Regions from separate parts of the Homo sapiens genome. Here region 2 is linked to region 1. Evidence: fine-mapped expression QTL. Tissue or cell type: whole blood. Region 1 holds a variant in brackets; the other region holds the start of a gene. All regions are shown on one strand. Distances are from middle to middle.

The links. PIP is the estimated chance that this variant, and not a neighbour inherited with it, causes the effect. A credible set is the group of variants that fine-mapping cannot tell apart.
Region 2: it holds the start of DOC2B, and the variant in region 1 is the best candidate, but not a certain one, in a credible set for the expression of DOC2B in whole blood (TOPMed, PIP 0.87).

What each region holds. Positions count from the first base shown.
Region 1 is chr17:205,157-209,392 of GRCh38, reverse strand. No RefSeq gene overlaps it. Among named protein-coding and RNA genes, the nearest start is that of LINC02091, 20 kb to the right of the region's middle. The variant G/T (reference allele first, on the strand shown) is at 2,026.
Region 2 is chr17:179,338-183,573 of GRCh38, reverse strand. It overlaps DOC2B (double C2 domain beta), which reads left to right and starts at 1,924. Exons shown (of 9, transcript NM_003585.5): 1 at 1,924-2,467. The coding sequence starts at 2,095. RefSeq lists enhancers at 1,039-1,540, 3,002-3,568.

The DNA.
Region 1 (4,236 bases):
AGGAATTTAAATGGCGCTGAAATTCTCAAAGCAAATTTTGAAGTCCGAGCACAGAGAAGCAAGAGCTTCTGAATTCTGAGGGCAAACAATTTCTAAGTTGACTTTTCTATCCAGCTAGAACTTCGTGCAGTGTGAAGTTAGAATGAAGATATGTTCAGACATGTGAGTTCTTGAAAAATATCACCTCCCTTGCCCTCTTTCTCGGGCAGCTACTGTAGGATGTGCTCCAACCAAACAAGGGAGAAAACCAAGAGAAAATGGGCACAAGAAACTGGAGCCCTCACACAGGAGAGAATCCTCAGGGTGATGGTGGAGCTGGGTGGCTGGTCCAGCCAGCCCAGATGAGGACAGAGGAGGTGCACAAGGATATACAAGAAGCATATGTGTCTCAGGGAGATCGTAAGTGAGAGCTACATCGTGATATTTTATAGTACATAATGCTGTATAAAATTACAAAATCAAGACATAGAATCCGCATGAGGTTTTAGATACCAAGGAACTAAAAGAGTTCTAAGGTGTCTCGAGGTGAGCAGGGGATTCCTGCTTTATGTTATAAACTTTGTAGGACAGTTACCCTTTTAAAACCTACTATATTTCATGTATAACAATGAATTTTTATGGAAAAATACACATCAAACTGCTGACAAACCCACAGGGCGGGGGGCGGCGGCAGTGAGCCCAGGGCCATAGCAGATGAGTGAGTAAACACCTGCCTGGCAGAGAAAAGACAGCCTGTGGGCTGCCCCACAGTCCCTAGGTCCACACCCGACCTGGGAACACCAGCCTGGGAGTGGCTCGGGCCTCTGCCCGCAGTTCTAAGCTGCAGGTGCGCTACCCACGCCTCTGTAGGACCAAAGCCCTCTCAGACCTGATGCAGATGAGCCCCCACACTCAGCCCCCACCAGAACCCCATGACTGGGCCAGACCCAGTCCCTGCAGCCCCAGGGTGGATTCCAAATGCATTTCCTAGAAGGCATTCATTAAGACGACGTCATCGTGGAAGTGTCAGCTTCAGAGCTGAGGTGGGCTGCAGATCCCTCACGGGAGCCTGCGGCTGCCTTGGAGTCAAGGGTTCTTTGTGGGCTGGTCTGGGAACCAAGAAATCCTTTCTTTATGAAACTGCTTTCTTAGTCCCAAGCAACCAACTTACAAGTTAGCTTTCAGAACTGAGCCTTTCCTGGTAGAAGGTGGAAGGTGTTCTGTGACATCCGTAAAAATCAGGGCATACGGAAGGGACTGGATTTGTCCCAAATACCAGATAACCCAAGTGGTTCCTAGAAGAGGCCGCAAGTGGAGAGCTCATGAACTTTGGACCCTGGTTTCAAATCCCAGATCTGCTACTTAGTGCCTGAAAGTATGGGTGCTTCTCTGTGCCTCTGTTTCTCATCTGTGAAATGGGGATAACACTTCCGTCCCAGGATGACTGGAAATTTAAAACATGAGGGCCCCAGTACAGCTCCCACCACCGTGACCAGTATGTCAACAGCTACCAGCTGTTTCTCCCGTAGAATTCAGTGAGGCACGTGCCTCAGGAGTGGTCAAGATGCCATAAGAACGTGAGAAGGGTGGCAGCCTGGTACCCGGGGCACAGTAAACCTTCATGCTTCTCCCTTTGGGGCTTTGGAATAATGGTGCTTATCCACATTCATTCCTCTGTCGAGCATTAATCGGGCAGATGCTGGTGCAGGTGCAGTGTTCTAGGCCCTGGGTTTGGTAGTGGACAAAACGGACATGGCCCCGTCCTCCTGCTGCATCTGAACCACCCAAGGGACTTGTTAGAACACAGAACACACTAATCCTACCTCGGAGTTTCTGATTCAGAGGTCTGCCGTGGGGCTGACAATGCATATTTCAGTTCCCAGGTGATGCCGAGGTTCCCATTGGAACCAGCTCACCTGTGACTCCTGGGGCTGACATCCCTAAACCCGCACCAGCTGGGGCAAAAGATACACGGACACTGGCAGACGACCGAGGGGCAGGGGATGCGGATCAGGCTGGCAGAGAAAACGCAGCCCTCACAGCCCT[G/T]CTGCCGCGTCCCGCCCCCGACAGATGCACGGCTCCGCGCTGTTGCTCAGCCCTGGCGCACAGGCCCAGCGGGTTAGAGGATTTCCACCCCAAACAGCGGGGGCCGGCATCTTTCCCACATGAGAAAACGCCTGCTTTCTGCTGGTACCTGGAGGAAAGGAGCATCTTATCGCGAGACCATGGAGCGGGGTTGGAACGACATGCCTGGCTCAGGTCCCCGCTCACTCCACTGACCTTGTTCTCTTCGCCCAATCACGTTTCCCCACCACCTTCTACCTTCCTCGAGCTGCCGTAAGAAACACTCGCCCAATCATGTTTCCCCATCGAGGTGCCATAAGAAACACTCGCCCAATCACGTTTCCTCATCGAGCTTCCGTAGGAAATATTCGTCTAATCACGTTTCCCCATGGAGCTGCCGTAAGAAACACTCACCCAATCACGTTTCCCCATCGAGGTGCTGTAAGAAACACTCGCCCAATCACGTTTCCCCATGGAGCTGCCGTAAGAAACACTCACCCAATCACGTTTCCCCATCGAGCTGCCGTAAGAAACACTCGCCCAATCATGTTTCCCCATCAAGGTGCCGTAAGAAACACTCGCCCAATCACGTTTCCCCATTGAGGTGCCATAAGAAACACTCGCCCAATCACGTTTCCCCATCGAGCTGCCATAAGAAACACTCACCCAATCACGTTTCCCCATCGAGCTGCCGTAAGAAACACTCGCCCAATCATGTTTCCCCATCGAGGTGCCGTGAGAAACACTCGCCCAATCACGTTTCCTCATCGAGCTGCCGTAGGAAACATTCGTCCAATCACGTTTCCCCATCGAGGTGCCGTAAGAAACACTCACCCAATCACGTTTCCCCATCGAGGTGCCATAAGAAACACTCGCCCAATCACGTTTCCCCATCGAGCTGCCGTAGGAAACATTCGTCCAATAACGTTTCCCCGCCACCTTCTACCTTCCTCCAGCTGCCGTAAGAAACACTCACCCAATCACGTTTCCCCATCGAGCTGCCTGCCGTAAGAAACACTCGGGTTCTGTGGTGCCTTCAGGTGTTCACTTCTTCATGGAGCTTCCGTGTGACGTAACACATGCTAAATACATGCTCAGACTTTTCTCTGGTTAATCTGCCCCCCCCTTTTTTGTATTTTTTTTTTTAACAGGGGGCCCAGCCAATGAGCCTGAGGTGGCTGTAAGGAAAAAGCTCAGTTTCCTCCCCTATGATTGGTTCCCCAGCAGGAAGGAGGCTGAGGCTGGATGGGGAACTGGCCTGCCTGCAGCCTCCACCCCAGGCCACCCTGCCCTGCACTCCGCCCATGGGGGAGAGAAGCCTCCTACATAAGGTGACCAGCTGGAGGGTCCAGCTGTTGGAGGTACTAGGCAGAAGGGGCCCTCGCCAGGGGAGATGGACGGCACACAGACGCACACACACGTGTGCATACACTAGTATGTACAAACACAGAAAGGTTCACCTGTTTACAGAATACGTAGGAGGCCAGGTGCAATGGCTCATGCCTGTAATCCCAGGACTTTGGGAGGCCAAGGCAGGAGTATCACCTGAGCCCAGGAGTTCGAGACCAGCCTGGGCAATATGGAGAGATGCCATCTCCACAAAAATTAAAAAAAAAAAAAAATAGCCAGACGTGGTGGTGCATGCCTGTAGTACCAGCTACACAGGAGGCTGAGAAGGGAGGATCACTTGAGCCCAAGAGTTTGAGGCTGCACTGAGCTGTGACTGTGCCACTGCACTCCAGCCTGATTGACAGAGCAAGACCCTGTCTCAAATATATGTGGAGGACCAGTGCCTTTAAATTGCTCATCCAAGTGCCAGCAAATGCTCTTCTGCACAGGGGAGGGATGAGACCAAAGGAAAACCTGGCACTGGCATTGCCCGGAGTATGTGAGGAGAAGGACCTCGCCAGGCCATGTGTGAAGAGCATTGGCAGAGCCCCTGCCATGGCTAAGTCCTGGTGTCCCCTGCAAAGCAGGGCCTTGATGCTCCAGTTTCCTGTCCCTTTCCTTTCCTCTGCAAACGGTCAGGGCTCTGACCCGCAGCGCCCGGCCCCACCCCGGGGCTGTCTTGTGCAGAAAGCAAAGCAGAGTGTGCCTCTCCTCACCCCACAGTACCGAGGAGAGCAGGCAGGCAGGAGGAGGAGGAGGCAGGAGCTCAGAGATCCTTAGGAGCCCCCGACGAGGTGCCCCCAG
Region 2 (4,236 bases), 26 kb after region 1:
GAGGCTCTTGGCCTCCTCCCGTCCTCCTCTTCCTCCTCCTTTTTTTCCCTCCTTCCCCTCCTCCTCAGTTTGGGCTTCCCCTGTCCAAGAAGCCTCAGGATGAGCTTTGGGAACGAGGTTTTACCTGTGTTTCCAACTCTGCTCTGAGCCCCTGAGCTCTGTAGTGGAGGGGAGGAAAGGGAGAAGGGAGGGAAAGTGGAAGCATCGAACAGTCAGGACACTGGGCTCTCATCGCAGCTCTGCCGCCAGCCAGCAGTCACCCTGGACACATCCTTGTGCCTGAGCGCTAATTTCCTCCCCTGTGAAATGGGAACAGCAGGCCCTGCCTACATCGTGGGGTGGTTTAAGGAATCAATGAGATGACAGCTGTGAATGTTCTTGGCGCAGTACAACATATGCCATGTGTTTCTCCAGTGTTTTCAAAGGCCGGTAGTGCCCGCCACCACCCAGTTCAGAACTCACCACAAAACATGAATTTCTCATCACTTCTCACCATGAGTCTTGTCTTTCCAAAGGAAGGGAGAAGGGAAAGCCAGCTGAGCACCTCTTACCTGTCTGTGCTGGATGGGGCCTTGCCACAAGGCTGTGCAGTTGGAAATAGCCTCACTTCATAGATGAGGAAACCGAGGCTCAAAGAGGTCAAATAGCCTGCCAGAACTGTGCAGCTGGAAGCCACAGGCCAAGGCTTTGCCTCTCTTTCCTCTGCTCCCCATCACTCTGCAGGGGTTATGGTGGGGGAACAAGAGAGGCTTGGAGCCCCTCATTCAGATGCACCAAAGGCACCCACTAAGAAGCTAAGTGTCTTACACATCAGTGGAAACCAGAGGGTAAACAGGATTCCATCCATGCCCAGGGCTTTCCGGGAACACACCTGTCCAAGCAGCAGCAGTTCCCAACAGAGCTCTGGTCCCGGAAAGCCGGACAGCCAGGGCTGGGCCCTCTGGGATTTGTTTAGTGATCTGACCGTGTGGGAGGCCTAGAGTAGGAGTGGGGGTGGGGGGAGCGTGCCGCCCAGCCTTATTGCATCACTCACCGCCCAGGCCCTGCCCTCACTCCCTCCTGACCAGGCCCTGTGCAGGTTCTCAGCCACCCTGCCCCGGGGGGTCCTTCAGACTGTACTCACTGACCAAGTGAGGGACTGACCCGAGGTTAGAGTGCTGTGTTGTATGTGACCTGAGAATATGTGTGCACAGACTGAGCCCCGGTGTCCTTGTGCAGTTGAGCGTGTACATGTCCTGCCCGTGTGTAGGCAACCTGTCCCTACATGCTAGGAGTGTGACTCCACGTCCTGCTAGAGGGGGAGGAGAGAAGGAGTTGTGCCCAGGGTCCCCTGATCACTTCTATGGGCTCATGTTTGTGCATCTTGTTAGGGGTGCTTGGGGGTAGGGAAGCCTGTGCCCTGGGTGCCCTTGATCACCTGTGTGTGTGCTCCATCAGGTGTGCGCGCCTGTGCATTGGGGGTGTACTGTGTCACAGCTTCCTAAAACAACCATGTGCGCATGCAGACGTTTGCGTGTGTGACCTACGGTGTGAGCGAGCGGATGCTTCCACCACGTGTCTCTGCACACGCATGTGTGCACTTGCACACCTGCGTGTGTCCCGAGAGAGCGAGCGGAGCCCAGCGTGGGCTGGCACGCGCGGGAACGTGTGGGTGCGCGTCCTGCGGGTCCCTGCCGGGTTGACTCCCAGCTTGTGCCGCGGGCGTGCATGAGCGGAAGGCGCCCGGCGGCCCTGCCTGGCCGCGAGTGTGCGCGCGCGGGGTCCCGGGCCGGCGTGCACGCCGGTGTGAGTGCGAGTGCGAGTGAGTGTGGCGCCGCGCGGCTCCCTCCGCTCCGCGCCGCCCGCGCAGCCCGCACACTCACCCTGCTTGGTTGCTGCCGGGTGACGCGGGCTGGGCCCGCCCCCTGCCTGCCGGCCTCTGGCACTCGCTCGCGCCGTCCGCAGCGGAGCGGGCAGCGGCCAAGTCAGGGCCGTCCGGGGGCGCGGCCGGCGATGCCCGCAGCCCCCGCCGCGCCCCGCCGGGCCTGCTGAGCCGCCCCCGGGCCGGGGTCGCGCCGGGCCGGGCCGCGCCCGGGGCGGGGCGGCGCTGCCTGCATGACCCTCCGGCGGCGCGGGGAGAAGGCGACCATCAGCATCCAGGAGCATATGGCCATCGACGTGTGCCCCGGCCCCATCCGTCCCATCAAGCAGATCTCCGACTACTTCCCCCGCTTCCCGCGGGGCCTGCCCCCGGACGCCGGGCCCCGAGCCGCTGCACCCCCGGACGCCCCCGCGCGCCCGGCTGTGGCCGGTGCCGGCCGCCGCAGCCCCTCCGACGGCGCCCGCGAGGACGACGAGGATGTGGACCAGCTCTTCGGAGCCTACGGCTCCAGCCCGGGCCCCAGCCCGGGTCCCAGCCCCGCGCGGCCGCCAGCCAAGCCGCCGGAGGACGAGCCGGACGCCGACGGCTACGAGTCGGACGACTGCAGTAAGTTTCCCACGCGCCGACTTCGCGCCCCCTCCCCTGGCTCGGGCTCGGCCCCCCCACGGCCTCGCGGCTTCCCTCCGCCGGTCCCCCTCGCGCGCTCGCGCTCTGCCTCGGTTCACAACCCCGCCGCGGGCTTGCGGGCCCCTGGCGCACTCGGTGCGCTCTCCGCGCCCTGCCCACCGGCCTCGAGCCCTCCCCCGACCCAGGCCGGACAGGAGGGAAGTTCGGGGGCACCCCCTGGGGGTGTCCCATTTCCGGGGCCGGGTTCCTCGGAGCCGGCGCCGCGCCCCCTCCCTGCCAGCCCGCCCTCCCGGAGCTCCGGCGCGGGCGGCTGCTTTTGTTCCCGGGAAGGGCGGAGCTGCGTCCCGGGGAGACACCAGTTGCTGCCGGCCGCGCGGTCGCTCCCCGCTCGCCAGCCGCTCCGGGAGGGCCTCGCGGCCGAGGGTCGGGGCTGGGGCGAGCTGGGGAGGGGCCCGAGGCTGGGAGCGGCCCGGCCTCCCGCGTGGTCCCGGCGGCCCGCAGAGCGCAGCTGCTTTGCTGGCGCGCGAGCAGAGGACCAGGAGGACCGCGGGGCCGCTTGTCCTTTGGAAAAACCTTGGCGTTTCCTCCTCCGGTGTCCATGGACCCCGCCGCAGCCCTCGCCAGGGCCGCGCACCTTCGCCCACCTGTTACGCCCGCGGCCCCCGGGCAGAGAGGGCCCCCCAGCCCGCTCCCCCTCCTCCCGGACTGAGCCCTGAGCCCCCGGGAGCAGGCAAGCGCCGGAGTCCCGGGACCGAGGCCCGGCCGGTGGGCGCTCCTGGCGCCTTTTCCCGTCCCCGAGGGTGCCTGTCCGGCCCGAGCCGGGACTGGCTGGGAAACCGAGGCCGGAAGAGGTCGCAGTCCAGTGAGGAGTCGGTTTGCGCGGGGTGGGGATGGCATGTGAGAACCCCCTCCTAGCTCAGCTGTGGCTCCAGACTTGTCACTGAGACCTGGAAAACCAGCGTCTCGTCAAACCCCAGCCCTTCCCGGGATGTGGCCCTTCTCCAGGGCTGGTGCTGCCCCTCCCCTGCGCAGCAGGGATGTCTGCGCCTGGCCTGGGCACTCACCAGGGCCTGTGGGCTGCGGGCCTGGAGTTTCCCAAGCATCAAATGTGCCACCAGAAGCTGAAGGTAGGGATTACCAGTGCCCCCGGGGCACAGACCCCCCATCGCCCCACCTGGGGAGGCCCATCAGCAGTGGCCGGTTAGAGCAGGGCCCCTGTAGGGGAAACTGCCTGCTTTGCACTTTCTAGAGGCCTGGACCACGGCCCTCGGGCCAGCGCCTGGCACATGAAGGCCCTGCCCTGGGGCGTGGGGGCTGGGGAGCAGTCTTGTCCCTCCACTTTCCTGCCAGCTTGGGGAGATTGGGTCGGAAGAGTTTTTTGCCCTCAGGGCTGTGCCCTAGATCCACCCCCCCTCCCCTCTGCCCCTGGCACCCTGTGCGAAGCTCACCCTGGACTTGGTGATCCCCTGGGTGGGCCCTGAGTGGGACCCAAGTAACTGCTTTGGCTGCCCTGAATCCAAAGCCTCCCCCAGAAGAACGGATGGGAAAGTTGTTCCCATTTCTGGCATCTCTGCTGCTGCACCAAGGAAGTAAGAGGGGAGGGCAGAGCTTCAGGCCACCCTCCTGGTGCCACAGAGGGCCCTCTGCATGGCGAATGGCCAAGAGGCTTTTTCTTTTTCTTTTTTTTGCTGTCTCTGAACCCACAAAGCAAGGAGGGGACCAGGAAGCTAGAAACTCAGGCCAGCCAG